Linked DNA regions of Homo sapiens: all the other regions are linked to region 1. Evidence: fine-mapped expression QTL. A gene starts in region 1. Each other region holds a variant in brackets. All regions are shown on one strand. Distances are from middle to middle.

Region 1 (11,064 bases):
AAAGTTCACCTCAAAACAGAAAAGATGGAGAAAACCATGGCCTTTGATAGAAAATTTTTGATTATGTAGCTAACAAAATCAAACATATGTGTTTTTAAATTTAAATTCCCATGTATACTTAACCTGTAACAGCTGTTCAGAAATCTACCTGGTGTGGTGTAGGCACAGAGATAACATAAGAAACAGTCCCTGCGTTCAAGGGATTGATAATCTGGAGAGACAAGACAAAGGGAAATGCAGGTGAATACACAACAGTACTCAATCCTCAAATAAGGTTAAAATGTAGAATCGCAGCTCAAAGGAAAGGAATCAAAAGAAGAACTGAGCAAATAAAGGAAAATCATCTTCAAACAGTTAGATGGTGTCACGGAAACAAGAGGAGCCTGACTCTGAAAGAGGGCAGGACTTTCCAAAGAAAGAGGAATGCAGAGGAGGCCATCTTGAGCTAGTAGTACCTAAGCATTTGAGGGGCCAATATTTGTTTGGCTTAATTTGAGATTTGTTTTGTTGTTTTAATAGCAATACAGTTGAGAAGAAATTGAGAATGGTCACATGCCCAAAAGCCAGAACTACAGTTAACCATTCACAGGATTACAAAAATATAATATCCACATTTACTCAAAGAAACTTTAAATTTGGATCCTCCAACCCAAATTAAGGATGTGAGAACTGACTTTGCATAGTTATCTTAGACAGATCTGCTCTTTTTAGAGTGTTCAGGTTTTATTCACTTCATGTTAACTCCTTACCTGATACCTCCCCAAGAACAAGTCACATGTACTTGAGGCAAGATAAGTTTGGAGCATATATGACTACAGAGAAACGGTAAGAGTGTTTAGCACCGAAATTTTCTATGTGTACTTTTTATATAATACTCTAATGGCAAATTCACTCTTGTTAAATGAGTCATTAGAATACATTTGATTTTTTAAAATCTGAAAGATTTTTGGCTGGGCTTGGTGGCTCACACCTATAATCTCAGCACTTTGGGAGGCCAAGGCGGGAAGACTGCTTGAGGCCAGGGGTTTGAGACCATCCTGGGCAACAAAGTAAGACCCCACTTCTACAGAAAAATTAAAAAAAAAAAAAATTAGCCGAGCATGGTGGGGCACACCTCTAGTCCCAGCTATTCGGGAGGCTGAGGCAGGAGGACTGCTTGAGCCCAGGAGTTCAAGGCTGCAGTGAGCAATGATTATGCCACTGCACTCCAGCCTGGGTGACAGAACAATACCCTGTCAATTAAACAAACAAACAAAAAATATGAAAAATTTTTATTACAGATTATTTAGTTTGGGGATGTGAAGTACCCTCCTGTTTCAAAGCCAGCATGACAATACTCTGGTTTTAAACTTTCCTCAAGGCCTAGTATTCGATAGCATAACAGGAGGACTACAGTCAATAATAATTTAACTGTACATTTTAAAATAACTAAAAGTATAATTGGATTGTTTGTAACACAAAAGAAAAATGCTTGAGGGGTTGGATACCCAATTTTCCATGATGTGATTATTACAAATTGCATGCCTGTGCCAAAATATCTCATGTACCCTATAAATATATACACCTACTGTGTATCCTCAAAAATTAAAAATAAATTTTTTTAAAAAATATTTAAAAAAAAGCAAAGCCTGAGAGGAGTTAAAGGAAGGAGAGTACAAAAAATTAAGTTTTCCACTGTTTGTAAGTGGCAAGTGTGAGGCGTCCATGCAAGGCTTCTTTGGCCTCCTCAAAGACAACAAAGGTTTACCAACCAACGGGCCTACCCAGCTCAGGGCACAACCCTTCCCTAATGCCATCCCCACCTCCTCAATACTTCTAAAACCCTCTTTCCAATAACACATCTGTCTCAAAGCAACCTGACCTTAACTTACGCATAACCAAACCAATGCATAACCAAACCAAAACACTCATCGGCAGCCTTCATCCTGAAATAAAGGCCAACAGCACACATGATACCACAAAGACCAGCAAGTTAAATCAACCACCACCTCACTTTGCTGGGAAGGGATTCTTAAGGTTCTCCAGAAGCGCTTTTAAGGTTCATTAAGAAAAACATTAAAATGTCATCAACTCACTCTCCAAACCGTCATATTCTCAAATGAAAGTGTTATCACAATTCCCCGTTAAACTGTTTTCAACTTCAGTCCACCTGATAAAAGGTAATCTGAGAAACAGTCTGTGAGCAGGAATAAAGGCACTTATTGGAAGTGCTCTCTCCCTTCTTGTAATACCAAGAGCACTAGTGGAAAAGCACAAATTAAGATCCAAAATATGTACACATACTATGATTGCAACTATGTAAAACATGCATAGACATATGGGTAGGAACTAGTGGCAAAAATAAATTTAAAATAGCTGGTGGGATTTTATGATATTTTTCAAACTTTAATGATGTTGATTTAAAAAGAAAAAACATCAAAGCATGATGTAGGCTGACAACAAAAAAAAGACCACAATTAAATGAAGTTTATCCCCCCCCCCAAAAAAAAAACTAAGAAAGAAAATACATTTATAGGTATAAAGTCCCCTCTAGTTAAGTGAGCCAAATAATTCATTCATTTCTTAAAATCTGGAAAGACCATGGCCGGGAGCGGTGGCTCACGCCTGTAATCCCAGCACTTTGGGAGGCCCAGGCGGGTGGATCACGAGGTCAGGAGATGAGACCATCCTGGCTAATACGGTGAAACCCCGTCTCTACTAAAAATACAAAAAATTAGCCGGGCGTGGTGGCACGAGTCTGTAGTCCCAGCTACTCGGGAGGCTGAGGCAGGAGAATCACTTTAACCACAGAGGCGGAGGTTGCAGTGAGCGGAGATCGCGCCACTGCACTCCAGCCTGGGCGACAAAGCGAGACTCCGTCTCAAAAAACAAACAAAAAATCTGGAAAGGCCAAATACTTTTTTTTCAAAATTTAATATTTTTTCTCAAAAAAATTGAGATAGAAAATACACTTATACGTATAAACGCTATGGTTAAGCAAGAAAAACTCATCGGTTTCCTAGAATTTTGAAAAGGCTCAGTCCTTTGAATTTAGCTTGGGATGTCCCCTTGCTTCGGTAGAAATCATGCTCTCAAACTGCAATTTAAAACATAAATGTGTAAATAACCACACCATTTTAAAAACCCAACTCCGTTTAGTCTATAGGCTTCCTTATCAGAACCTAAGGACTGGACTCCACTGCTTTCCTCCAGGTGAAGGAAAATGCTTGCCCCAGACGGTGCCAAGACACTGAGCAAACCAACTCCTCCACTCCCATCCAGGGGAGGGGAGTCAACTATTTGGACTAACAGGGTCTATGGCAATGCACATTCCTTCCCTACAGGTAAGAGGTCCTTAGCTGGGTGTACTGCCCTCTTGGACTTTGATGTCAACAGTGGTGACCCTTGGAGCTCAGCCTTTGCAAACAAGGCTGGTGAACAGGGAAGACTGCCTGACCTTCCCGGACAACCACGCCACCAGAGGCGGGGGATTTATAGACAGATCGTACAGGGCGATGACGTTGACAGTCAATCTGGCATCCAGTGAATTTCACCTCAAGTATCTGGACCCCAAAAGTGGGCCACATAGCTTCCCTCCCCACCACCTAACTATCCTCAGCCTAAGAAGCAGCCCCTGTGAAGGAGAGGCTGTAACCCCGTTCTGCCTCAAACTCAATGGACGGCTTTGGAGAAGTCAACTATAGGCTTTTTACATAGAAAAGACGTGGGTGTGGCAATGTGATAGAGGTGGGGGTGCGAGGTAAAGGCTTGTTCTGAGGCTGCGTTTACACGGGGGGCATGATGGAGATTTCATTTAGAGTTTATGCTCATCCGGAGGAAGGGGTCGGATGGAAGTGGAAAGCCCTCCAAGCCAGCCCTTGGCACTGCCACTGTCCCTTCTGGTCCTGGACCTCAGTATCCTCACGCGTAAGACACTGAGCTGGACAGCAGTTCTGAAGTTTGGAGATTCCGGGAGAATCAGGAGAGGAAGGCCACCGGCCCACCCCGCACCCTCAAGCTCGGGGGTCTTCACAGGGACTCACACGGGACAGGGCGCGGGAGCGCTGCCCGGGACCCTAACGGCCCTGGCGCCCTCGGGGGCCCCGGAGGACAGAGGGCTGCACCCCGGCGCGGAGGGCGGAAGGAAGCGCGTGGGCGCGCGGCCCCGGGCGGCGGGGGCTACTCACGGGTCCCCGCGGTCGGGCCCACGGCCGCGGCAGTGGATGGGGTTGAGCTCGTCCTGGGGGAAGGCGTGAGCCATGTAGTTGTCGTAGCCAAAGACGAACATGCCCCGTGCCAGGTCGCGCATCTGGGCACGCAGCTGCGGAGGGAAGGCGCCGCTGTAGCGCTTCTCGTACTCGTCCGGGCCGCGGCCCCGGCCGCCCAGCACGTAGCCCCAGTTGGCTGGGCCGCACATCCCCGGCCCAGGACGCCGCGGAGCCTTGCGCGGGCTCTGCGCTGCCCCGGTCCCCGGCGGCTGCAGCCACGACGGCCCGGATACCCCCCCAGGCCGGCCCACGGGCCCCGAGGTGGGCGACGCGGGGCCGTCGGGGCTCCTCAGACGCTGGAAGCCGAAGCTGAGCGGAAAGCGCTGGTAGAAGCCCATGCTGGGCCCCAGCCCGAAGACGAGCCACAATACTCCATGGAGGCCAAGCCGGAGGAGCACCAGCCCCAGGACGAGCGCTCGCCATTGCATGGTCGCGCGGGCGCCGCGGGCATTATTTTAAAGCGCGGGGGCCTCCCCGCCGACCACCGCACCCCGCGCTCGCCCCGTAGCCCGGCTCGCTTCCCCTTTAAGGAACTCCCCCGTGACGCACCAGGAACTAGCCCATCGTCCCCAACCCCCAGGCTCTCCGGCGGGCCGGCCAGGCCCCACGGTCGCCCGCCCAGTGGCCCGGGATTGGCCCGGCCTGGGCCCGGCCTCGCGGGGCGCGGCCCAGGACTCCCTCCCACGCAGTAGGCCGCCAGGACGTCCGCGACGCCCCGAGGCCCCGCCCCTCACCCGGGCCCCGCCCCAACTCCCAAGCCCCGCCCCCCTGGGCGGTCCGTAGCCCGATGGGCTGGCGTGGCGAGCAGGAGCCGCGCCGGCCCGCGAGGGAACTTCCAGCCAATGGGAGAGCGGCACGGCAGCGCCCGCCGGACGCTGGACACAGACGTGACCCCAGACCGCCTGGCCTTGGGTGGATCGGGTCTCTGGGCAGAGCGTGTGTCCGGCAGAGCTAGGACCGGAAAAAGCCACTCTAGGTCTAGGTTAGGAGTGATGACAGTTAAAAGATATATAAGGAAAAGAAGGAAAGGATCGTTTCTGTATAAAACGAGCTATTTTTGCATATCGAGCGCATAAGTTTTATAACTTAGGTGTCTGTTTATGGAGAGGGTGGGATACTACCTTTTAGCTCAAGGAGTGCACAAAACGGTATCATGAATTCTGCTCTTTTGATTCAAACACCCAACTTTGAAGAATCGCTCATGGTGCTTGTAAAACACGTATCCCCAGATCCCTCCCTAGACCTATCGAACAACTCCAACGGTCTCGGGAATGTGCGTGTAAGTACTCTTGGACAGTTCTTAGAAACTGGAAGTTTCAGGAAATACAAAGTTATGTTATATTGCTTTTGTCTCGGAAATAGGATTTTTTTAAAAGGGGGGGGCGGGTTGGGGGTGGGAATGAAGGCTCCCACCACCACCAAATTATTTACCAGATATATCTAAACATGTCTTCTCCTGTCCCTCCCATCCTACCATCTCTCCTGTGCACCCGCAATTAGTGACCTAACCTTTGAGGTGTGGGGTAGATTCCCAGTTAAATAACTTTACCCCTCTGTATCTACTTCCTATAATTAAGAAGATTGCAAATGTTAGCTCTAAAGGGCTATGGCTTTCACATAAAGATTCAATGGTTTAGGCGCTTATTTATTTTGCTTGCTGCATTTGGAGTTGGCTGTAAGTTTTGCCCTCCCTAAGTTTAGACCCTATGCCTGTTTCATCAGGGTTTCTGAAAAGCTTGGGAAGCAAGACCTGACTAGACCCCCAAATCTGATATTGGCTGAATGGCCGACCAATGGAGTGCATAAGAAGGTAAGTTGTCATGTGGCACTCTCATCACATTTTCAGGGTAGAGGACTTTCTGAAATACAGAGGAGGTGTAAGGGGAACTAAGAAAACACTTGATTACAGCACATGGTAGCTGGCACATAGGAAGGTCCTTACTGTTGGCTGAGCCTTGTTCTTTCCCAACATTGAGACATCGAGAGCAGCCCAAGCAGCAAAAAGATTACGAAGACAGCTTGAGCCAGGGTCTTTAGACTACACAGCTTCTGCTTTTTCCCCTCTGTGAAGGATGCCTAGGGACTGTGCTGGCAGCCCAGCTCCAGCCCTTGATCCTGAACTTCTGCCTTCCTGGAACTTGCAAACTGAATGTGAATATTCAGTTGCATGTTGCATGTTTCCTTCCGGGGCTACTTTATTGCAAATTTTAACTTAAATTTGACCTGGTTAACTGCAGGCCACATTGAGGACAGCTTCTGTCTTGATGTTAGAGAAAAACTCTTATAAAAATAAATCTTTTAATAACCAGAGAAAACCATCCAACTCCTGAAAGATGCTTTTCATAGTAAAACTGATGGTTTTCAAAACACTTTGACATGTGTGCTTATTTAATCTTCATAGAAAACTGTAAAGCTTATTCCACAAGCCATAATGGAAGAAATCAGGTTGGGGGCTCAATTCTCAGAGCCTGTTGGCTCTAGGCAGAAAGGGAGTTACTACACTTTAGGGCAATTTGCACTTCAAATAGCTGGCCCTTGAGCAGACAGGTCCCTCTGCTCTTTCCAAGCCACCCAAAAGCAATAGTTTTGACATTAGTGCCCTGCAAGGCATAGCCTAGGCATTAGGGTCTAGGTTCAGAAAGTGTTTCCTTCTGGAATGAAACTGAAATGAAAGAAATGGGTTATTTTGTGCTAGTCCTTTCGATTAGGACTCTCCTTAAGCTAAATGTACTGATAAGATTGGGACAACACCCATACCCAATCAGAAAACTCCAGTCTTGAAAATCAACTCTTTAAGATAAACAGTTTGATTTGTGACAGGTTTTCCGGTAATCTCACAAGCGCATCAGGGACTGATAAAAAAGGAAAGGAGGCACTTTTTCAGTGTAAAAATGGCTTTACTCTGGGGAATGCAAAGAGATGACAACTAAGAACTCACATTCAGAAGTCAGGTGTTCAAATCGTAGCTCTGCCCTAAGAGTGACCTTGGGAAGTTACTTTTCTAGGACTTGTTTCCTCATCCATAAAATGGGTGAGTGATGAGGACAATGTTTATCACAGTTGTGATTACATCATATATATATATAAAGTACTTACAACCGTGCTACATAGTGAGACCTATTAATACTTTTCAACTCTGAAACTTTTAAAACTAGCACCCGGCTGGGCGTGGTGGCTCACACCTGTAATCCCAGAACTTTGGGAGGCCAAGGCAGGCAGATCACTTAAGGTCCGGAGTTCAAGACCAACCTGGCCAAAATGATGAAACCCCATCTCTACTAAAAATACAACTACCCGGGCGTGGTGGTGGGCGTCTGTAATCCCAGATACTCAGGAGGCTGAGGCACGAGAATCACTTGAATCCAGGAGGCAGAGGTTGCAGTGAGCTGAGATAGCGCCACCACACTCCATTCTGGGCAAGAGAGTGAGACTGCGTCTCAAAAAAAAAAAAGTATTTCAAAAGCAGAGGTTTTGCAAAGCTGAAGGCCTAAAAAAAAGTATATAATTACAGTTCAAACTTATTTGATGGGCACAAATCCAAGTTTGTCAACATGCTCTGTTAGCAAGATACAGGATACTCGAGAGGCTGAGGCAGGAAGATCCCCTGAGCCAGTAGTTTGAAGCTGCGTTTCCTATGATCGTGGCTGTAAATAGCCAATGCAATTACCTGGGTAACAGTGAGACTTCATCTCTTTTTTAAAAAGGCATAGGGGACTGGGACTGGTAAAAACAAAAACTAGTACTTCCCGTGTGAAGGGTCATTTGGCAATTCCTAGTGTCAGAAAAAAATTACAACAAATTTACTTACAGATCTAACTGGCGTTTATTCATAACTTATGAATGGGGCAGCCTCCATTCTACAAAACAGAATGAAAGCTCCCAATGAGAAACAGCAGAATAGTGGGTTTTGTAAGATGAGAGCAAGGAAACAAAACAATGAAAAATAACTGATTGGTTAACATCGGGTTACTTTTTTTTTAAGGGTTAAAGAAGAAGGGACTTCCTTATTATTCTGATTCAGACAGACTGGGATTTTCTGTTTTCAGGAAAAACTGGTCTGTAAAGTTTCCATGTAACTGTGTGGCACTTAATATATGTAACTACTTTGGTCTGCTAGGACCTAGTGCAGAAACTCAGTCCACAAACAATGACCCCCCATAATTTTGGTTTAACGTTAGCACAAGTCGCCAGGCGCGGTGGCTCACGCCGGTAATCCCAGCACTTTGGGAGGCTGAGGCGGGTGGATCACTTGAGGTCAGAGTTCAAGACTAGCCTGGCCAACATGGTGAAACCCCATCTGCACTAAAACTACAAAAATCAGCTTGGCATAGTGGCACATGCCCGTAGTCCCAGCTACTTGGGAGGCTGAGGTAGGAGAATTGCTTGAACCCAGGAGGCGGACGTTGCAGTGAGTCGAGATTGCGCCACTGAACTCCAGCCTGATGACAGAGCAAGACTATCTCAAAAAGGAAGAAAAGATAGTGAGATTCCCTTCTAGCAGTTCTAACACCAAACCACTGAAACAAATATATGAACTATACATCAAAAATATTCATCATGCACATGCCCATACCATGCTCTAGCCTTTAGGTTACTGATGCTTCCAGAGAATATAGGAATTCTATAAATCCTTAACCCTTCTTTGAATGAGGGCTAGCGCTTATAAATTAGCTAATAGTATGACAAATAAGAGCAATTTGAATTTTTCTTACAGAATAAAATATACAAATGGAAGAGTTATCTAATTCACCTATTGGGTAGTAGATAGAAATGGTGAATTCTCTTAAGCCACAGAAACAAGCTAGCACATTGTGTGATACACATTGTACAACACTGAGGGTAAGTCACAATTGTAGATAAGAATTGGTTAAGGGAGATGCTATAATTAGCAAGTGGTTAATGTTCTACTTCCCAAGTCCAAAAGGGGATACAATGGTTTTGTTGGTCCTCCAGCCCCTTTACTTTTAAGAGTAGTATTTTCTAACCATTCCAGGTTTCTCCAAAGCTCTGGATAAATTCTAGCAGAACCTAGCTGGCCGGGCATGGTGGCTCATACCTGTAATCCCAGCACTCTGGGAAGCTGAGGTGGGCGGATCACAAGGTCAGGAGATCGAGACCATGGTGAAACCCCGTCCCTACTAAAAATATTAAAAAATTAGCCAGGCGTGGCGGCGGGCGCCTACAGTCCCAGCTACTCGGGAGGCTGAGGCAGGAGAATGGCGGGAACCCGAGAGGCGGAGCTTGCAGTGAGCTGAGATGGCGCCACTGCACTCCAGCCTGGGCAACAGAGTGAGACTCCATCTCAAAACAAACAAACAAAAAAACCCCCAAAAACCCAGCAACACAGCAGTTATAAAGGATTAAACCTTAGCTCTAAACCACCTACCCTCAAATTGGTAGTAGGTATATACACTTTTCTGGAGTGCATACCAAACATTTTCTGCAGTCTGGGGAAAATGTTCTAAAATTTGTAAATGCCTTTCAAAATATAAGCCGGTATATTTACAGAATTTCCTTCAAACAAAATAAATTTACTGTATCATTCTGTAAAATGTCTGCAATCTCCAGCTTTTGTGCTAAAATTTAAAGTTGTAACATGTAAATATTTCTGTATTTTTGAATTACCTTCTATTGAAGGAACATGTAATATTAACATATTCACTAGGCCAAATCGGTGTTTTTGTATCTCTTTTTAACCACCAAGCAAATTTCTAGGCTGCTAGAATCAGCCTGTCAGTGGCAGAAGTTATGGTTAGAAATCCTCTCCTGTTCATTTTATAGATGGGAAAACTTAAGGAGCCATGAGGGGGTTCTGCAACTCACCAGTCACACAGTCAGTTAATGGCCAAGGAAAGAACCCATTCTCCCAAATGCCAACCCAGTACTCTCCACAGAATTAAGCTATATTAGCATCGTAAGCTAACAACTCTTTTCCTACATCCCTACTGTAAGCCCCAGTAAAATGAAGCTAAAGTATCTTTTCCCCCTCCTGATTATTGGGAAATCTGCATTACCTAAATGCCAGATGCCTTGGGATTTCAAAATAGAATTATCTTACTGAAGAGAGGGCTGGTTAATAGAATGGAATAATAAATGACTACTGCTGTGGCTTAGATTTTTAAGAGAGTCCTATTGCAGTCTGTCTACCATGACAATGACCTGCTTTGGTTTCCCTAAGAACACCCAAGAGGAGCAATGACAAAAGTACACATTTTTATTAATAGCTGAATTTTAAACAGCCAATGTGTGGAGGTTATTTACTAACCAACAGGAAACACCTGCAGCAGGCTGCATACTTATAGAGCAGCAAACTTAAGGGAAGTCTGTAAGGCTTTACTGTCTTCCTTTTCAAGTCTCTTCACTGCTATGCACAGTTGAGGGCATAACCTTAAAAGTCTGTAACATAACAAAAACATTTTAAACATCAAACATCGTGCTTTCCCCACTGTGGCACATTTTTAGAGTAAAGCATTTGGCCAACTGGATGTTACAGCATGATGCCCACTACATTATGTTTAAGCTTCCATTCCAGTTCTGAACCCACCAGACCCTTGGAGCAGCTGGAATTACCAAATCAACAGGGTATCAGTGTAACTCAATCCTACATGGAGCAAACAGACAAAGCAGTTAGTTCCTCAAACACCCAATTTACTTGACAGAATCAAAGACCAACTTTATAAGTTTAGAAGTTTTTAAAAGCAGATACACATTTAGAATTAAGCTAAATGTATATCCTCCGTGTTCCCCCATCCTCACCCTCAACTCTCACACACTCACCCCCTTGGTAGGAGAATGGTGAGAAGTGGATGAAACTTGA
Region 2 (11,064 bases), 61 kb after region 1:
TCACTTAAGAGTAGAAAATAATGGCAGTAACCAAAATATTCATATAAGGGTTAATGAAAACCTGTAACGTCAATTTAATATTTTTAAGAAACGGGTAGGCTGGGTGCAGTGGCTCACACCTGTAATCCCAGCACTTTGGGAGGCCGAGGTGGGTGGATCACTTGAGGTCAGGAGTTCAAGACCAGTGTGGCCAACATCGTGAAACCCTGTCTCTACTAAAAATACAAAAATTATCTGGCCATGGTGGCGTGCGCCTGTAACCCTAGCTACTCAGGAGGCTGAGGCAGGAGAATCGCTTGAACTCGGGAGGCGGAGGTTGCAGTGAGCCGAGATCGCGCCACTGCACTCCAGCCTGGGTGACAGAGTGAGACTCTGTCTCAAAAAAAAAAAAAATTTTTTAATTTTTTTATTGAAATAAGATTGCCAAAAGCTAGAAACGAAATAGCTAAATTATGAAGGAGAGAAATGTAGGTTTCCTTTCTTTTCCTAGATTTTCCTCTGATAAGAACTATTTACAAATGATGAAGTCCATGTATTGGCATTAAAACATTCTCCGGACAAAATGAGCTTTCAAGAAAATGGTGGCCGGGCACGGTGGCTCACACCTGTAATCCCAGTACTTTGGGAGGCTAAGGCGGACAGATCACAGGAGTTTGACACCAGCCTGGCCCACATGGTGAAACCTCGTCTCTACTAAAAATACAAAAATTAGCTGGGCGTGGTGGCGGGTGCCTGTAGTCCTAGCTATTCGGGAGGCTGAGGCAGGAGAATCACTTGAATCCCCGTGCCACTGCACTCCCAGCATGGATGACAGAGTGAGACTCCATCTCAAAAACAAAAAAAGAAAAAGAAAAAAAAGAAAAGAGCGAAGAAAAGGCAGGCCTAACTATGTGTGTAGCCTAGATTTTAAGCAACCTCATTCTTAACATTATGCTACATTTTGCATACTGAAGTAAGAATATAGGTTCATAGGCTGGGCGTGGTGGCTCATGCCTGGGCCGAGGCGGGCGGATCACTTGACGTCAGAAGTTCAAGACTCGCCTGGCCAACGTAGCGAAACCCCATCTCTACTAAAAATACAAAAAATAGCCAGGCGTAGTGGCGCAAGCCTGTAATCCCAGCTACTGGGGAGAGGCTGAGGCAGGAGAATCATCTGAACCCAGGAGGCAGAGGTTACAGTCAACCGAGATCATGCCACTGCCCTTCAGCCTGGACAACAAAGCAAGATTCCATCCCCCCGCCAAAAAAAAAAACACACACACACACAAGCAAGCAAGCAGCATCCCACTATAATAGGTCCAAGATTAGGTAAGGATTATACTGAAATATATCAGGGTTATGGAATATGCAATCTACCAATACTTCTAAAACAAAATAGCAGCATGATAAGTAAAGGGGATGAGCTGTATTTATATTTACATGGCTTGCCTGGGAAGCTCAACAAAAAAGAACTATGTTCTCAGGGGCAGGCGTGGTGGCTCCTGCCTGTAATCTCAGCACTTTGGGAGGCTGAGGCAGGAGAATCTCTTGAGCCCAGGAGTTCCGGGACCAGGCTGAGCAACACAGTGAGATGAAGTCTCTACAAAAAAAAAATATATATTTTTTTTTAAGAGAATATGACCTTGGTCAGGTGCAGTGGCTCACGCCTGTAATCCCAGTACTTTGGGAGGCCAAGGCAGGCAGATCACCTGAGGTCAGGAGTTCGAGGTCAGCCTTGCCAACATGGTGAAACCCTGTCTCTACTAAAAATACAAAAACTAGCTGTGTGTGGTGGCACGTGCCTGTAGTCCCACCTACTTGGGAGGCTGAGGCAGGAGAATCACTTGAACCCAGGAGGCAGAGGTTGCAGTGAGCCAAGATCATGCCACTATACTACAGCCTGGGTGATAGAGCAAGACTCTGTCTGAAAAACAAAAAAGAGAGAGAGAGAATGTGGAGAATGTGGCCTCACTATGTTGCCCAGGCTGGTCTTCAACTCCTGGCTTCAAGTAATCCTCCTGTCTCTGCCTCCCTAAATGCTGAGATTACAAGCGTGAGCCACCACACCCAGCAGCAAAAATCTTGTTTAAAAAAATTAGCCAGGCGTAGTGACATACGCCTGTGGTCCCTACTACTTGGGAGGCTATGGTGGGGGGATCTCTTGAGCCAGGGCCCAGGAGGTGGAGGCTGCAATAAGCCATGATCATGCCACTACACTCCAGCATGGGCAACAGAGCAAGAACTTGTCTCAGAAAGAATTATGTTCTCTATAGTTATCAGTCTTGGCAGTTGCTGAAATATAAAAAGGAACTTCTTAAAATATATTAAACACAAACAGAGCAGTATCTAATAGGATAATTTTAAAATACCGTTCTACTTCATCAACAAAACTATGTTTGTCCTAAAAAATACCAGAGGACAAAGTGCTTAACCAAAGTCCAACTTTATATATGAAATCTGCTCAGTATTAGCTGGGCGAGGTGGCAAACACCTGTAATCCCAGCTACTTGGGAAGCTGAGGCAGGAGAATTGCTTGAACCCGAGAGGTGGAGGTTGCAGTGTGCCAAGATCACACCACTGCACTCCAGCCTGGGCAACAAGAGCGAGACTCTATCTGGAAAAACAAAAAACAAAAAACAAAAACTGTTCAGACCTTCTCAGTGGGAGTGTACACTTTCTGGAAAGCAATTTGGCCATATGACATAAAATGCGTTTTTGACCCAGAAATACCAACTCTGGAACACATCCTCAGGAAGTGCAGATCAAATTGAGTACAATAGGAAAACATAGGAAAAATCCCTCAAATGTCCAATAAGGGAATTACCAAATATGTTATGGCATATCCACAAGACATACCACAATGGAATAAACTATGAAGACATGAAAAATGTTTTAGATAGAAAAATGCATACACTGTAACAATTAAACCAGAATATAAAGCATTATAAGTAATATTATCTCAGAACTTTTTAAAAGACATCTGGATATACACATTAAGAAGACAAAAACGAAATGCTTTTAATGTTGACAGTAGTTAATCTTGGATGGTAGAAATAAGTGGCTTCTTCTACCTTATACTATTCTTTTCACATCTCCGCTAATGAGCCTGTATTGTTTTGATAACACAAAAAAAATTTCAGAAAAAAAATTTTTTAATAATATTTGAGTAACTTTTTTATAGGTTCAATGTATTTTGTATCCATGTTCAGTAACCATCCACTTACTATATCTTTGAAAAACTTAAAAAATCCATTAACTTGTGAAATATCTTCTAAGACAGGCATTTAGAATGCATTATTGCACTCTAACAGCTTCTTAATGAGAACATTTGGCTTTCAAGATTCTTGGTCTGCAAGGAAAAACAAATAATTGGAGCGGGGATGAAGGGTAGAAAACTTTATGGAAGGTAGAGATGTTCCTTTGTAAGATGCCTCATTTTCCACAACTCAGAATCTATACTTGAAGACCACCTTATTGGAAGACTAGCTTCTCCAGTCAAGTTTCAGATGTGTAAAACATCTAGACTTGAACCACAGCCCATTTTCTTTAAAAATGGTTTTTGCCATTCTTACCTCCAAAGAAATTAAATAATAAGCAATACAATCAAATACAAAATTATTTCTGCTTTTTTTTTTTTTTTTTTTTTGAGACGGATTTTCACTCTGTTGCCCAGGCTGGAGTGCAGTCGCTCAATTTCGGCTCAACGCAACCTCCGCCTCCCAGGTTCAAGCAATTCTCCTGCCTCAGCCTCCTGAGTAACGCCAGGCTAATTTTTGTATTTTTAGTACAGATGGGGTTTCATCATGTTGGTCAGGCTGGTCTCAAACTCCTGACCTCATGATCCGGCCGCCTTGGCCTCCCAAAGTGCTGGGATTACAGGCGTAAGCCATTGCGCCTGGCCCTCCGCTTTTTTTTTTTTTTTTTTTTTTTTTTTTTGAGACGGAGTCTCGCTCTGTTGCCCAGGCTGGAGTGCAGTGGCGCAATCTTGGCTCACTGCAAGCTCTGCCTCCAAGGTTCACGCCATTCTCCTACCTCAGCCTCCCGAGTAGCTGGGACTACAGGTGCCCACCACCACACCCAGCTAATTATTTGTATTTTTAGTAGAGACGGGGTTTCACCGCATTAGCCAGGATGGTCTTGATCTCCCTCTGCTTTTTAAAGATACTAAAAGTAGTTCAACAACTCAGTAATGCCTGTTAGCCAGTTATTTAAATATCCAAACATAATATTCCACTCTTACTTTCCACAGATTATCATTCCTTCTCCTAATTCATGTTCATAGATAAATATATAGTCCTCAAATGTTAGTCAGTATGCTTAAGATGCCTGGATTTAAAATGCTCTCTCTAGAGAGACACACAGTACTCATTACGTCTGTATTTCTTATTCTATAAAGCAAACATTTCATATACGATACAAAAACTGCAGCTGATTTTTTAAATTAAATTAAATACAAAAAAGATGTTTAATGGATTAAGATCTCCCAATCCACAGTTCTATGGTTCTAACCTCAGCTGGATCTAAAGAGGTGGGAAAAGTAGAAAGTACACTGGCCCCAGATTCTAATTCTATCTCTGCTACGAATTAGCTTTGTTGCCTTGGAATTCCACTTAACCTCACTGGATCTGCTAGCCACATCTAAAAAATGAGGGGAAAATTAGACTACTTAATCAAGGTTTCTACAAACTCTTTAAAAAATGATTCTAGGTTCATATTTCTACAGTCTTCCCAAATATCTTCTTTTCCTAATTCTCAGCAGTAATAAACTTTCCCTTGGATTAACCTTTCAGGTATCAACAATGTGCAAAAGTGTAGACAAATTTTTATACTTCCATTTAAAAAATACATAATGTCCATAAGATTTATCCTATATTATTTTGGCAAATCCTATTAGATATTTTTTAATAACTATAACATATCTAAAAGCCCCAGTTAAAAATAAAGATTACTCAATATACATTACACATATAGGCACATGACTTATTGTGCAATAACTGCCAGAACAGTTAGCAATGGAAAAAATACTTCATTCCTTGACACTAATCAGAAAAGACAAGACTAGGGTGTTTCTTTTTTATAATGTTCAAAACAAAAGAGAACACTACATATATCAAGTGTCTCTACATAAAACTGGATTAAATTAGGTATCATTTCAGTTTTAAAATCCTAAGGAAAGGCATTCTAAGTCTGAGCATTCTGTAACTAAGCTGCATTATCTTTTAGACTCAAACCAAACCCTACATATAATAGTAATTCAGTCTCATGAACCTTTTGAGTAAGTTAAATGACATCTATTAAATCTTCCTTAATGTTTAAGGCACATGTAGTGACATTTTAATGTTTACAAAATGTTGATTTTTACAAAAAGAAAATTGGCTTCAGCTGAAGCTTTTCATACCTGAGAAGTCGCTTCTTAAATGTGAATAAGTAAATGGTCACCTTTCTAGAGTGACACATAGTACTCAATACATCTGTATTTCTGATTCTATAAAGCAACTATTTTATATACAATACAAAAAGTGCAGCTGATTTTTTAAAAGGCTAAACTTACTATTTTGGACACATTGTTTCTACCTAAAAATCTCTAAAATCATCTTTAATCACTAACTTGGATTTTAATCACTACATCCTCAACATATTCTATAAGAATCAGGGGTTAGGTTAGAGCCTTGAGGTTAAAAAAAAAAAAAAGTATGAAATTCACTGAGGGGGTCCCTTTCAGCATCTTAAAAGCCACAGCCAATTACAGCCCAGATGTCTTTTTTCTTTTTTAAATTAATATTACTTTTAATTGACAAATCATAATTGTATACATTTATGGAGTACAATGAGATGTTCTGATACATGTTTACAGTGTGGAATGACTAATTCAAGCCAATTACACATCCATCACCTTA[T/C]CTTTGTGACTTTTTTTTTCTTAACTGAAGCTACCCACACCATTACAATTTTAAAAAGAATAGTCTAATGATAACAGTGGGCTGGGCACAGTGGCTCACGCCTGTAATCCCAGCATTTTGGGAGACCAAGGCAGGCATATTACTTGAGACCAGGAGTTCGAGAACAGCCTGCCCAACATGGTGAAACCCCGTCTCTACTAAAAATACAAAAATTAGCTGGGCATGGTGGCAGTCGCCTGTAGTCCCAGCTACTCGGGAGGCTGAGGCACGAGAATAGCTTGAACCCAGGAGGCAGAGGTTGCAGTGAGCCAAGATCATGCCACTGCACTCCAGCCTGGGCAACACAGCGGGACTCCGTCTCAAAAAAAAAAAAAAGATAATGGTGGAGCCACTGGTTCACTTTGACTTCAACAGCTTTGCAGAAGTTTTGTTGTTGTTAAATATAATAATCTAATGGTGGGGGCGGGGCAGGGGGGAACACATGATGCGATTACTTTCCCCAATCCATAAATCCACTACTGCAGCCCACATCTGGATAGATACAGTGATTCAAAGTAGAAAATGATACCAGTTGAGTCCCTTCTCAGTATTTTTCAAGCCATCGTTCCTGCATTAAACAGGTACGCCCAATTACAAATAACAACAGTTACCATCTACCTATCCCCTTCTGTGGGCCAGTATGAGTGCTAGCCACTTAACATCTTTCATGTCATTTAATCCCTAGAGCAACTCTGTAAGAAACATATCATTACCTCCATTTAATAGATGGGAAAGTAAGGACTCAAAGAGGATGTAAGGCTGCTAAGCGGCAGAGCCAGATTTCAAATCCAGGGCTGTCTGACTTCAAAGGTCATGCTCATTAAGCTACACTGTCTACTGAAAACAGAAGCATAAAAATCACCAAGAAGTTTCTCAAAGATTTGCTCAACTTTTTAGAGTTCCCAAGCATAACAACTCAACTGCAACAAATACAACTGGCTGTATTAATACACCTATCCACATGAAACATTAATTCCATGTTGTCAAAGAGCAAGTTTTACAAGATGACTCCAATTCTCATCTCAAGGGGATATGAGAAAATTTACAGTTAACTGAGCTCAACTTCACTCAAGCTTATGCCTCATCTTTTCCATATTATATAAAAGCTCTAGCAGGCTTATAATCCCAGTATGCTGGGAGGCCAAGGCAGGAAGACTGCTTGAGGCCAGGAGCTCAAGACCAGCCCTGGCAACATAGCAAGAGCCCGTCTTTATAAAAAATAAAAATTAAAAATAAATAGCGAGCCATGGTGGTAGCACATGCCTGTAGTCCCAGCTACTTGGGAGGCTGAGACAGGGAAGATCACATAAGCCCAGGAGTTGGAGGCTGCAGTGAGCTACGACTGCACCACTGCACTCCAGTCTGGGTGAAAGCTCAAGACCCTGTCTCCAAAAAAGAAAAGAAAAAAATTCTAATATAAATATGTAACCCGAAGTTCATGTTTCCTCATTAATTTTAGTGGTATTAGGCCAGGAACGGTGGCTCATGCCTGTAATGCCAGCACTTTGGGAGGCCGAGGCAGGAGGCTCGCTTGAGCCCAGGAGTTCAAGGCTGGCCTGGCAACATAGGAAGATCTTGTCTCTACCAGAAAAAAAAAAAAAAAAAAAAAAAAAAAATTAGTGGTATTAGATACACATTCCACTCTTCTATTCCTGCGGAAAGATAGTCATTCCAAGCGCAAAAAATCATAATATTACAATAGGAGGCCAGGCGCGGTGGCTCACACCTGCAATCCCAGCATTTTAAGAGGCCGAGTCGGGCGGATCACATGAGGTCAGGAGTTTTGAGACTAGCCTGAGCAACAAAGCAAAACCCATCTCTACTAAAAGTAATTAGCCGGGCGTGGTGGAGGACGTCTGTAATCCCAGCTACGCAGGAGGTGGAGGCAGGAAAATCGCTTGAACCTGGGAGGTGGAGGTTGCAGTGAGCTGAGATCTCGCCACTGCACTCCAGCCTGGGGGACAAAGCGAGACTCCGTCTCAAGAAAAAAAATTAATAATAATACTACTAGAAAAGGAGCCGAACAACAAGCAGGTAAATCTTCCTTATATACATCATTCTTCAAAGGACTTTGGGGTTTCTGCTAATCTCTTTTTCTCCAAGACTTACTCATTCCTGTTGCTTTATTAGTGCAAGGACTAAGAATCACAAGTTACCTATTTTCTCAAACATGAAAGCTGTGTTTGAATCATCTTGTGTAACCTAACCAGTCGGACAGCTAATCTTCAGGATTTCAACAGTCATCGAAAAGGTGGAAGAACTGCTGCCATCTCTCTTCAGAACAGTTCTAAAACTCCCCTGGCGTGTACAAGCCACTACCAGCTAAAACTGAGTCACAACAACTCTTGGGCTCTAAATAAAGATCGAGGCGAAATCTTTCACTCCTATTTATTTCCCAACCAACCAAACAAGCAAAACGAAACAATCACCTTTCTACTCAATCATTGCTGAACAAACACCACATTCTATGTAAGTCCTCAGTGCAATTTTCCTTCCACCCATTCCCTAGGCCTGCTAAGCTATGTTCCTGCCCAGTACCTTCTTTTCTCTTCAAGTGAAAAACACCATTTAAAGACCAACTCCTCTTTCGCAGGGTAGTTAACTTTATGCTAACTGCAGATCCATCTTATCTAGTCGCTTAAGACAATTAACTCTTAGCTTAATAAATACTATGTATTGTGGGCTAGCTGGAGCTCAGCAATGAGCTTGGTCTCCGCGCCTGGGGGACGGGTGAAAACAAGTAACTGAATTAGATGGGACCAGCGGCCCACAGAATTCAGGAAGGCGCTCACACTGGTCTCCCGCTTTCACAATGGGTCTATTGGTCCAAAGTGGCAACTTAAGAGAGGCTCTTAATGCTTACGCTTTCTCGTACGGCTGACGGATTTGCCAAATCCCACCCTTTGGGAAAGTGACAGACTGGACTTAACTCTTTGGCTGCCCCTACTGGGCAAACCCAAGGGAAACCCCAATCCCCAAGCGCTTTAAAAATGTGACGAGTTCAATTTAACTCTTTCCGAGCCCCCGCGGCGTTGAGGACACAGCCCTTGGAAAATGTCTACACTGACTTAACCCTTCCGCTGCCGATCTCAGTGCTACTCCCCGCGCCGCCAACACGCGGGAAATTCCAAATGCTGGCCCTCGGGAGATGACAGGCCCAGCTTCGCACGCCCCCCGCCATCAGTCCCATCGCGCCGAGGGGGGCCCCAACTCAGGCCTTGGAGAAGCGCCGGGCCGGACTCCTGGCTGCGGAGCCCCGGGCGAGTGAGTGGGCGGGCGCTCACCGCGATGACATTGACGAAGGTGGTCTTGCCCGAGTACTGCAGCCCCACGAGCGTCAGCTCCATCTCTTCCTTCCAGAAGAGCGAACGGAACCAGTCCAGCAGGCGGGAGATGAGCGCCAGCATGATGGCGGCCGGGAGCGAGAACGGACGGGAGGACGGACGAGCGGCGGCGTCGACGACTTCCACACGAGCGGGCCTCCGCCCGGACCCTCCAACGGCTCCTTGGTGCCCCGGCGCGACACGGGCGGACACCGGCGGGCGGCAGCAGCCAGACCCAGGAAGCCGAGCGGATCATATGACTCGCCCTACCCCCCACGCCCGTCCCGGCGCCGCCGTCGGCACCCACGGCAAGAGCGGCGCGGCCAATCCGGCCAGGCCCGCCCGCCGCTGGCATCGCCACCTGGTGGGCATGCTCCGCAGCACAGCGTACCCTCGGGCCCCCTTGAGGCTTTCTCTACATTCATTCATTGTTGGTTCATTCGTCATTCATCCACTTATACATTCGTTAATTCATTCATTCATTTTTTGCTATAATTGTTCATTAACAATCTGCAGGAAGACTTCAAGACTCTGGAAGAGTTGGCGTGGAATAAAAATTCCTGTCCTACATTTTTGGTAGTAGCAAAAGATAGTGTTAACTTAAAAATGACACCGTTTATAAATTTAGAAAGGAGAGCATTATTTCTTAAGAAGGGGATTATAAGCTGTAGGCAGGACGTGCAGCCTCGGGCCAAAAAAAACAAAAGTAAGCACTTTGAGAGAGGGAAGGGTGCAACAAGAATTTATATTGAGGAGTTGGCCAAGTAAACATATTTAACTTATGGAAGGAGCTATTAATATGTATGAAGGTGGTCTTACACACATAGTGAACAAATCTGTATGTTGCATATGACCTATGTTCATTTGGGGTGGCGACTTAACATTTAAATGTATTATAATCAGGCAGGGCGCGGTGGCTCATGCCTGTAATCCCAGCACTTTGGGAGGCAAAGGTGGGCAGATCACCTGAGGTCAGGAGTTTGAGACCAGCCTGACCAACATGGTGAAGCCCCATCTCTACTAAAAATACAAAATTAGCCGAACGTGGTGGCATGCACCTGTAGCCTCAGCTGCTTGGGAAGCCGAGGTGGGAGAATTGTGTGAACCCAGGAGGCGAAGGTTGCAGTGAGCTGAGATCATGCCACTGCACTTCAGCCTGGGTGATAGAGTGAGACCCTCGTCTCAAAAAACAACAATTAAAAAATAAATAAAGTAAAAGTATTATAATCAGGCCCTCCACATCAGAAAGTGAATCAGGGACGGGAAAGGTATTGAAGTGCTTGGCCTCTGTAAAACCAGCCAGAACTGGGCTGGGCGCGGTGGCTCACAGCCTGTAATCCAAACACTTTGAGAGGCTGAGGCAGGTGGATCAGGAGGTCAGGAGTTTGAGACCAGCCTGGCCAACAAGGTGAAACCCCGTCTCTACTAAAGATACAAAAAATTAGCCCAGGCCGGGTGCAGTGGCTCATGCCTGTAATCCCAGCACTTTGGGAGGTCAAGGCGGGCAGATCACCTCAGGTTGGGAGTTCAAGACCAGCCCGACCAACATGGTGAAACCCCGTCTCTACTAAAAATACAAAAATTAGCGGGACATGGTGGCACGCGCCTGTAATCCCAGCTATGCTGGAGGCTGAGGCAGGAGAATCGCTTGACTCCGGGAGGCAGAGGTTGCAGTGACCGAGGTCATGCCACTGCACGCCAGCCTGGGTGACAGAGCGAGACTTCATCTCAAAAAAAAAAAAAAGAAAGAAAGAAAAGAAAAAGCCAGCCAGAACCAATGCATGGATGCATGGTTAGTTGTCTCTTAACAGGAGAAAGTTACAGAA
Region 3 (10,124 bases), 30 kb before region 1:
CACTATAGATTAACTTCCCTCTTCCCTTTCTCACACAAAGACCTCATGACTATCACACTGTCTCAAGAAGGAATGTTAAATGGACTCTTAAATTGGAAAGGACATGAAAACAAGCTGTACAGAAAATAAACAAAACTGTAACAAAACTGTTGTTAACTCGTAAACCATCCTCGTACGGAATATGTTTTAATCCTACTAGATATCTTTGTCTTCTACCTATGTAAGCAAGACCTTAACTTCTAACTTGGGAGCATTGACCCCATTTTTCTGGAGTCTGTGTTCCCTGGGTAACCGGTTATTCCCGGCTTTGGGATCTAATAAACTCTTAATCATATATCTAATATACTTCATCATATTTTCTGAATTTCATCATTTAAGGTTGACGGCATCTAAAAGAGAGCGTCAGGCTGTTGCTTCCAGTGGGTTCCGCTGTGACAGGAAGCAAGATTGTTTACTTTCCAGGGTTCTCTGCTGGAGAAATGGAATCATAGAATTTACCGCTCAGGACTTGGGTGAGGTTTGAATGTAACAGGCTTTTAAACCATACACACATGCACGTGAGTGCACACAAGCACATAGACAGACACACACACACACACACACACACACACACACACAGAGCCAGAGTGGGGAGGGACTGTTCATTCTTTAGGCCACTGACTAGCAGACTGGGCCAGACGCTTAAGCACAAAGACCAGGTGTGCTGGGGCACAGGTACCACCACACCCAACCACTCTGCACCTCCTGGTCTGGGTTTCTGAGTTAGGAAGACATTAGCATACTTCCTTGATTAAAGAAGGAAAAAAAAACTTTAAGGGACAAAGAGACATAACCTGTAAACATTTTAGCAGCTGCCGCCTCACACGCTGACAAATGTAGCTTCTAATTCATTTTGCCATCACGGGAACCCTAGGAGTTGATGTGCTATCATCTCTGATTTTAAAAGTGAGGACACCGTGTGAAGGTGAGTGCCTTGACCCAAGCCACACATCCAGGACAAAGCCAGGAGGCCAGCCCAGCCTCCCCATGGCCAGCCATGTTCTTACTCTTCCTCCAGCATCCCTGTTTAAGCCCTAGGTCTGATCCTGGATGTCAAATCCAGCTGGACCATAATTATAGGAAACACGTTAAGTGCCTTACACATATGAATCCACCCAGTCCTCACAACTATCCTGAGTATGGGCTATTATTATCAACCCATTTACTAGACAGGAAAACTGAGGCCATCAAGTCTGTAACTTGCCCAAGGCACACAGCTAAGTTAGGGGTAGAGTTGGAATTGTACCCAGCACCGTGTGGCCCAGAGTCCCCATACTCCACCCGACACTGACTACAGCGTTCATACAGGACTGCTGGGCTCCACTTGCTCCACAGATGGCAAAGGGCCTGGTGCTCCCACTACTGAGGCAGCCTGGAGTGGGAAAGGCAGGAAGGCAAGAACCCTGTGGCTCTTGATTTGGTCCCTTGGCCCACTGGACTTGCTTGGTTTTGTCAAGATCACAAACCCACAAGACTTGACAAACACAACCCCACCACCCCTCACAATAGTAGAGCTCAATGTGGGCAAGGTGTTTCCAGCCTTGAGAGTCTCTCCTTCGCCCTGTCATGCTTCGTGGCCTTTAAAAAGGCCCATCAGGCGTGGTGGCTCATGCCTGTAACCCCAGCACTTTGGGAGGCCAAGATGGGCAGATCACCTGAGGTGAGGTGTTTGACACCAGCCTGGCCAACATGGTGAAACCCCGTCGCTACTAAAAATACAAAAATGAGCCTGGTGTCGTGACACGTGCCTGTAGTCCCAGCTACTCAGGGAGGCTGAGACAGGAGAATCAGTTGAACCCAGGAGGCAGAGGTTGCAGTGAGCCGAGATCGTGCCACTGCACTCCAGCCTGGGTGACTGAGTGAGACTCTGTCTCAAATAAAAAAAAAAAAAAACCCGTATCAAAATTGTCTGTGACCAAAGCTGGGACACAGATGTCACAAAGCAGGAGCAGGTCCCTTCCTCAGGATCCCACCATGGTCCCCAGTGGCAACACACAGGGAGGGAGGCCAGCCCTCCAGAACCCTCTACCCACACGCTTCCCATGGGCCTCTGCACCCACACAGACCGTGAAGTGCCACTGCTCTCAGAGGTGAGGAGAAATGAAGCGCCTTGCTTAGATAACGCAGAGAACTGGTTTTAGATCCCAGATACACTCAGCTAATTGGCAATAAGAATAGACAATGAACTCAGTGGCCAAGAGAAAGGAGGCTGATGCAGAGGGGAAGGCCAGGGCTGGGACAAAAGTCATGAAAAGCAGTTCTGACCTGCATGTGAGGGGCATTTAATGGAAGAGTGTGACATACAAAAATGTAGTGGAATTCCATGGGGGAGGTATTACTTAGGGCTTAGCTATAAAAAGCAAGGTTTTATTCATCTAGATGGGCACTTCCTTTAGAGACTTTTCTCCCATTTGTCTTGCATGTAATGTAATGTACATGAGAATGTAAAAAAGAAACAAGATGACAACTCAAAAAAAGAAATCTTTTAATAAAAATTACTCATAAAAATCCTAATAAATTTTAAAGAGCAAGATATTCCTTATTACATTTATAAAAGAACATTTGGTCCTTTTACAAAAAGATCCCTTTTAATTTAAATACATTTCTTATTTACAGATTAAACATAAAATATCATCTACAGTTGCAAAGCATATTGCACATTACAGAGAAGCATTTGTGTATTTCCGTAAGTTTTCCCAGAGTTTCCAACTCTATACTTTTTTTTGTAAAAAGATTTACCTTTCTTATGCAAAATAAATAAAAATGCAGCTTGTGTTTTGCTATTTAAAACTAAAACAAAATAACCTTTAAAAATATTATTCCTCTGCCTTGCAGAAAGAAGGAAGAGGGTATAGAATCAGGGAGTTCCACAGGTACTTGATATTTTTACCAGATTCACGTCCAGATTCAAGCGGGAGCATAACCCTGAGCCCTGTGAAACCTGGGACACAGGGCCCAGCCCGTCCCACCTCCTCGATTTCCCAAGGGGTCCCTGCCCTGCAGGGAAGAGGCACTAGAATAGGAGCTGGATGCTGGGAATGGACAGGAAAGCTCAGGATTTTCTTCTAAAGTTCCTGCTCAGCCACCCTGTGGCTAAGGTAATCACTCAGCCCTACCTTTTCACCAGCACTACATTTGAAAAAAGATTTTTGTTTTTGTCAACAGACAAAAAAAATTTATCAAAGAGAAAGGCCCCTGGTGCCCTCCAGAAAGCAGAAAGGAATGTCTCATGTTGAGTCTACACAATCCAAAGAGGAATTACAGGTGGTAATCATTCAGTAAACTGAACTACGAAATCATTAAGAGGGATATTTTCCTTTGGTGGGGAGAAGGGGAAAGGGGAGGAGGAAACAAGGCCCTCAGATTGCACAACTGCACTGACCAAACCAGGTACTTCTACAGACGCTCCTCTAATAGTCACGTGCACAGACACCATCCTGGTGCATTTTTCTTTAAATACATAGAAAATTATTTAAGTGTCACGTGCACAGTCCATGATCTAAAACAAGAAAAGCCCTGAGGATTCAGTTACAATGAGTAAGTTCCAGCACAAGCGCTGCCAAAAAAAAAATTTAAAAAAATGAAGGAAAGATTTGAATACAGAAGCTGGTTTTTCACAATGGCCAGTGCAAATGGAGAGCTAGCAAACCCTCCCTTGCCACCTATGATTCTAGAAGGGATTCCTCGGTCACATCAACTAAAGTAGCTAAGCTACTGTAATGATTTGAAAGTTTGTTATGAGAGAATTATGCTTTGTCAAGCCAACTATAAGGCAGCTTTCTACAACAGTTCTGCAAAATGTTTCCACCACACTGAGCAAAGCTGACACTAGACACTAGCTACACGTGGGAATAGGAAGATGGGCCAGGCTCAGAGCCGCCGCAAAGGATGAAGTCCACTCAGATTTGAGGCAATCCTGGGGCAAAGCACTGAGCAAAGCAACTTCTCTGGTAATCTCCTCCTCAGCCATTCTCTACCCAGTATTTCAGAACACAGAACAGAAGAAACTGCAAAAGCCCTGCAGGATATATCACAGCTGTTAACATTCTGACTTTAAAAAAAAAAAAAAAAAACAAGTAACCTTTGAAACTGGCTCAAAGAACCTTCTGGCATCCAGCCCCACAAACCACTGACTACATAGCATCAAACTTTGGACGGGGTAGTCTGGAAGCTCAACAACCAGGATTAATATGTACTAACTCACTCACCCTCAGTCTCACCCACTGGTATTAATTCCAGTACCCAGAAGTCAAGTGGGTTTGTGACTTAACATAAAACACGTTTCCTGACAGCCTGTGGCCCCTGGGAAGCACCTGCAGCATTGTGTAGTTTGCAAGCATGAGATCCCTATTCCCTATTCCAGGAGCATGAGGAGGAAGGAACACCCAGGCTTGCTCGAGTGACAGGCAAAGTGCCTCATTAAGAGAACACTGGAGTGCTTACCCACCACTGCCGCCACAGAAGCCAGAGCGGGAGAGGAGGGGAGCGCCAAGAGAAATCACAGGCAGGAAGAACTCACCTCCTTCTCTGAGATGCTCTATTTTCCCAAATGGGTCACTAACAGTCCCACCTGTTTGCCCAGAGACAAAGGTACAAGTATGCTCGTGTGTGCATGCATGCATGTGTGTGTAATTAACATTTTCAATGAGTCAGTGAAAACATTTAAAATATATATATATATTATTCTCAAAGTTTTCTATTCAGTAGATGGGACACTGTTAATAAACAGAATAATGCTTCTGAAATGAAAAAAGGTAAAATAGAAGCATTTTATTTTTTCTATTTTAAAACAATTGTTGTAATAAATGTTTAAGAGATAGAGATGGCACGTTTATTACTGAAAATACTCTTTTCAAAAATCTCAAAGAACTGAACTATATAAAACCATAACACTTAAAATTTTCAAGAAGGAATAAGATTTCTCCCTTTTGACTAAAAATGCAACATAAACTTAGACAGTGCTTATTTCTAGCTTTGAAAAGATGTACATGAAATCCTTAGAGGTGGGAAAACAGTGACAGGTGAGAACCGTGCTATGTGAGGCTGGAAGTTTTAGGGATTTCCTACCTTTTTTACTAGAATGCGTTTCCACCCATGACGCTTCATGGAAGCCAGACTAAGAGTCA[A/G]CCCTGCTGCACTGTGTAAGAGTAGCAGGTGTGTATCAGTGTGAGTTCAAAGAGAGATGTTCTGGCTAAGAAAATAATAACAAAAAAACAAAGGCATTTTAGCACAACTTCCTCCTTCTACATGCTTACTTTTACAGGATGAAAGGCAAAGACTGGCCAAGCAATTTCCATCCCCCTTTCACCACGGTCTCACCATGTGGCTAAACAGGCCTCCTGAAACCATAGCAGTAGCTGCGACATCCAGTGCCCCAAACCAAAACCAATATAAGGCACTAATCTAAAGCCTGTATTACACAGAGAAATGGCTCAAGGATGCTAAAAGTCATGTGATCATTTCTTTCTCCCTGATTTAGCTAATTGGCACTAGACACAGAAAACAGAAACAAAACAGAACTCTAACCCAAATATGGTCAGAAGTGAGAATCCTTGCTTAGGAAATATGAGAAAGATGGAAGCTCAGACAATCTTAGGTATTGTTCTCTCCCTAAAAGGCACCTGATTCTGGAACTATGGGAGTTCCTCAGGTAAGTTCATATTCAAAATGCAAAATACCACCCAAAAGATGTCAGTTAACCTCTTAGACCATAACATAATAACCTAAGAGACTATCTGTTAAGAATTCTGGTTAAGACCATTCTTCTTAAGCAAATAATTTGTAACACTGTAAAGATTACTTGAGGCAAACATGAAAAACTGGATGACTTTTTCTCCCATGTGATCCAAAATCACGGTTGGATATCAGGGGAAGACCCCAATTATCTAACAACAGAAAGGATGACATTTTCAATGCAATTAAATAGGGATACCAAATGAACCATGGGCCCTTTTGCAGAAATTTCATTCTCAATCCTCTAACAAAGAAGTAGCTAGCCAGGTACAGTGGTGCTCACCTGTAATCCCAGCTACTCGGGAGGCTGAGGCAGAAGGATCACTTGAGCCCAGGTAACCCTGTCCCAAAAAAATATCAAGACCCTGTCTCAAAAAAATAAAATATAATAAAAAAAATTTTTTAAAGACATAGCAATACTCCAGTATAGCAGGTGCCAGCAAAGTGAAGAGACTTAGGTTCTGAAGTATAAAGCTGTGAACATCAATCCAAAGATGCCCCATCTATTGTGCTTATAACATCAACATGTCATAAGAGGGCAATTTCCATGTATCTTCTCACTTCAAATTATATCCTTAACAGGGCATTTTATTGAACAGGAGAGAAACACTGAAGTGTGCAAGGATTAACCAGACGTGGTGAGGTGTTGCACAGAAATTCCTACACCACCATGGACAGCAAGACTTCTGTCCCCTTTCATTTCAGACTGGACTTTGGCATGGTCTGGGTTTGGTCGTTAAGGTCTGGTTCAAGATGAGGCCTCACAGAGAGCAGATCAAATCAAACCAACCATCTGGTCAATCTGTCGCATGTAGATGCTCTTTAAGGGCAGGGAGTACCTCCTCTCATCAGGTACACGATTGCACTAGAAAGACAAAAACGAGGGAAAATTAAAAACTCATATGTTGCTCTCTCAGGAAATGTGACTGGATGACTTAATCCAGGGTTTCTCAGCCTGTGAACTACTGACGTTTGGAAGTAACTGTTGTGGAAGCTGCCTGTACACTGCAGGACGGTCAGCAGCACCCCTTGCCTCTCCCACTAGGTGCCAGTGGCAACTCCTACGCCTCAGCTGTGAAAATCAAAAACGTCTCCAGACGCTGTTCCAATGTTCCCTGAGGAGCAAAATCACCCTCAGGTGAAGACCAGTGACATAATTTAACATCCTCACTCACTTTATAAAGAAATGGCAGATCCAGGGAAGCTAAAAGGCATCGCAGCAACTGCTTCGTGGCCAGGACTGAAAGCCACATCCCTGGGGTCCTTAGTCCGCCCAGAATTTCAGAAAACATTTCTGCTACTTGAAAATACTGTGTTTTTCTGAGCTATGTTTTTCTCATTCACAACTCACTAAACTCTAAATGCTTAAGACTATTTCTTTAATTAAAACCCCCCCACCCCCACCACTTTTTTTCCTCAAAGCAGATGCACATCTTGAGAACTAACCAACTGTGACATCCCTGGAAGCAGTTGTCTAAATACATTCATTATCTGCTTCATCTCCAAAGAAACATTTTCCCCACGCTTTGTAGTAAGTTGAACTTACTACACCCTGCTCCTCATCCCTGGCAAGATCAAGACTGGCCGGTCCTTCCATTGGTCCCGACTGCCCCCACCAGCCCACATCTCTGTGCTTTTGCAGGTGCTACTGCTTCTGCCTGAACACCCTTTCTGGGATACCCCTTTTCATCCTTCAAGGATCTCCAGCAAGTGACCTCCTCAGGGAATCCTGCCTTGATTTTCTCTGGAGATTACTCCCTACCCTCTGTGTTTCAACAGCACTACAGACAAACGCCTAGGATGGAAGTGGATTCCCCACTAGGCCATGCTCCTATCCAGAACCGGGAGCCCTTCTGAGGGCCTGAATCCCTGGTGCCTGGAATCATGGGATCAGATCTATTAGTGAGTATGGCAGGTCAGAGATGTCTCCTTCCTAAAAGAGAAGACACTGCCTGGGTCCAAATCCTGGCTCCACTGTGGGACCTGAACCTCTCTGTGCCTCCCTTTCTTCAGCTGTAAAATGGAGATGTTAAAAGTAACCACCCCTCACAGGGCTGTTGTTAGAAGTAAACAGATTAATGTACGTAAGCGTTTAGAATGGTGCAAAGGCTAACCCTGGTATGTGTTTGCAAATGCTGGCTGTTATTAACTCTTCCCCCTCTCACCCTCCTTCCCCTTCCTCCCGATTATGCTTTGTCCACTCAATCAGCGCTCCATGACTGATGGAAATGGGGGCGGGGGTGGTTATCTACACTCTGGCCTATCGATTTACTTCATAGACTGATGGTGAAGACCTTCACTGGGGCATTAACGGAAAAGCACTGAAGCACAGTCGGCGATGAGAGGGCACCCCTAATGCCAAGGCAACCCATCTGTGGGGAGGCTGCCGAACTCCTGACCACCAAGGCCCTGGGGGATAACAAGATTTGAAATTTTGACTGACCTACATTTCCCTATCCTCACTTCCAAATCATCCTATTTGATTCAAATCAACACAACTACCTGATACTTTCACTAGGGATGCAAGGACTTCCATTTCCAAATTTTTCCTGCTGCTTCTCAGGACAATCTAGGCATGTGGAGTAAAGCCCCACTTTAAATGAATGTGGGTGTTTGCTGCACTTCGAAGAGCATCTTCATTGGGACCATCGTGACCATCACTGCTTTTTTTCCCTTCTGCTGCTGGTAAATGATTTTGCTGAATGTCTTCCATTTGCCCCTCCAGGTCCACTGATGGATCATATCAACAGGCTCCCTCGGCCTCCAGCTTCTGCCCCAGGCAGCCAAGAAGATGCTCCAGCAGGCAACTGGGGGAGCGGGGAGGGGTCACATGTTGACTCTGCCGGCTCCCTCCAGGCAAGGCCTTGAAAGTCAGATCTGAGCCGTGGCTCCTGCTGAGTGCTCGCTCCTCCCACAAGGCTCCCCCCTTCCAGGATCCTGTAGCCACTCTCCCCACCAGCACCTGCAGCCAGCAGTGATGATGCCACCGCTGCTCCTGCGGTTTCCCTATACCCTGACAACAGCTATGTAAATGGTGTCTTTAGGAGGTGTTTTCAAATCTCCCAATCTGCATACACCATCAATTTTCTGTCAGGAAGTCTGAACAACTAAGCAATTCATAGTATCTTCTCTTCCTCTATATGCAAATCACCCCTGGAAAAAGCAACTCACGTTGGAGCTGGAGTTGATGACTTTTAACTCATGAGGTTTCGGCCTGTGCACAGACTTTCCCCCTTGGTCCTGCCCTCCCTCTTCAGAGAAGAATTCCTTCCATGGCAATTCCCGAAGATGCTCATCCACAGATACAATGTGTCCCTCTGTTGTGAACATGTATCTGGTTCCAGACTTGTGTACTGGATTGTCTTCATCAAACAGCTAGAGGGAACGGAGAAAAAGATACAACCAATAATTGTAGCACACTGGGAACTGAATCATGGGGGCGTGTCCCAGCTACTCAGGGAGTAGAATTTGCTTGGGCCTCATGCTTCTCAGTGACAACTGGGTGAAAAGGAATTGACTGACAACTGTGGTGCCCAACCCAGGCTGCAAGGCAGAATCACCTGCTTCATCTAAACTCAGATGCCCAGACCTGCCTCTCCCCTACACATACCCTGCCCAGACGCAGAGACTCAGAAATTCTGAAACTAAGGCCCAAGCACAGGTAGTCTATAAAAGTTCACTGGATGATTTCCATGTGCTACCTAAGAGTTCTCCTGCTGGAATTCTAGAACTACACCCAACCTCACACACACCTAGACCCTGAACTGTAAATGCTGACAGGGAGGGACCAAGTTTTATCCACCACCATTTCCCCAGGGCCTAGCACAGAGCCCAACACATCTGCCAACATTCACTTCACTTCTTGCACAACAAGGGTTGGGCTCTGAAGACGCAATGGACACAAGGCACAGTCCTTTCCCTCAATGGTGCATGTGACACGGAACGAAAGAGCATCTAGAAAGAACATCTAACCCAATATGGGATGCAACAGTGCAGGAGAAGGCAAGTGTTCTGTGAATGTTGAATGAATGAATACCTAGAAACTCTTTGAAACTTTATTGGTCACCTAAACTATTTCAAGATGAGGAAAAATGAGATTCAGTGCAGCTTGTCAATGTTTACACAGTAACAAGAGAAGAACAGGGTAGACCACAGGTTTTCCTCTCCCCAGACTCTAGGTTCTTTCAGCTAGCACACCCTCCAGGGTCACCTTCCTTTTACTCTAAAACTCGCCCTGTTAACGTCCTTCTGACACCAGTGGCTGCTGGATGGAAATATGTAGCTAGGCTCTGACCAGCCTGATTTAGCAGAACTGAGCCACCTGCAAGGAGAGCAAGAACCACTGCACACAC

What was found.
Region 2: its variant is fine-mapped to the expression of EDEM1 in tibial nerve (GTEx, PIP above 0.99). The same link has a PIP of 0.9 or more in esophagus muscle, subcutaneous fat and testis.
Region 3: its variant is fine-mapped to the expression of EDEM1 in whole blood (INTERVAL, PIP above 0.99).

The regions. Positions count from the first base shown.
Region 1 is chr3:5,181,417-5,192,480 of GRCh38, reverse strand. EDEM1 (ER degradation enhancing alpha-mannosidase like protein 1) reads right to left here and starts at 4,774. Exons shown (of 12, transcript NM_014674.3): 1 at 4,167-4,774. The coding sequence starts at 4,675. RefSeq lists silencers at 2,669-2,788, 3,986-4,275, 4,326-4,495, 4,736-5,145 and enhancers at 3,786-3,835, 6,257-6,316, 10,339-10,388.
Region 2 is chr3:5,120,724-5,131,787 of GRCh38, reverse strand. ARL8B (ARF like GTPase 8B) reads right to left here and starts at 9,496. Exons shown (of 7, transcript NM_018184.3): 1 at 9,200-9,496. The coding sequence starts at 9,322. LOC124906212 (a long non-coding RNA gene) reads right to left here and starts at 8,729. Exons shown (of 2, transcript XR_007095800.1): 1 at 8,072-8,729; 2 at 2,973-3,328. RefSeq lists silencers at 5,750-6,044, 9,431-9,690. The variant T/C (reference allele first, on the strand shown) is at 5,877.
Region 3 is chr3:5,212,342-5,222,465 of GRCh38, reverse strand. EDEM1 (ER degradation enhancing alpha-mannosidase like protein 1) reads right to left here. Exons shown (of 12, transcript NM_014674.3): 11 at 8,944-9,147; 12 at 2,508-6,637. The coding sequence ends at 6,548. Among named protein-coding and RNA genes, the nearest start is that of EDEM1, 30 kb to the right of the region's middle. RefSeq lists enhancers at 1-148, 8,581-9,082. The variant A/G (reference allele first, on the strand shown) is at 5,166.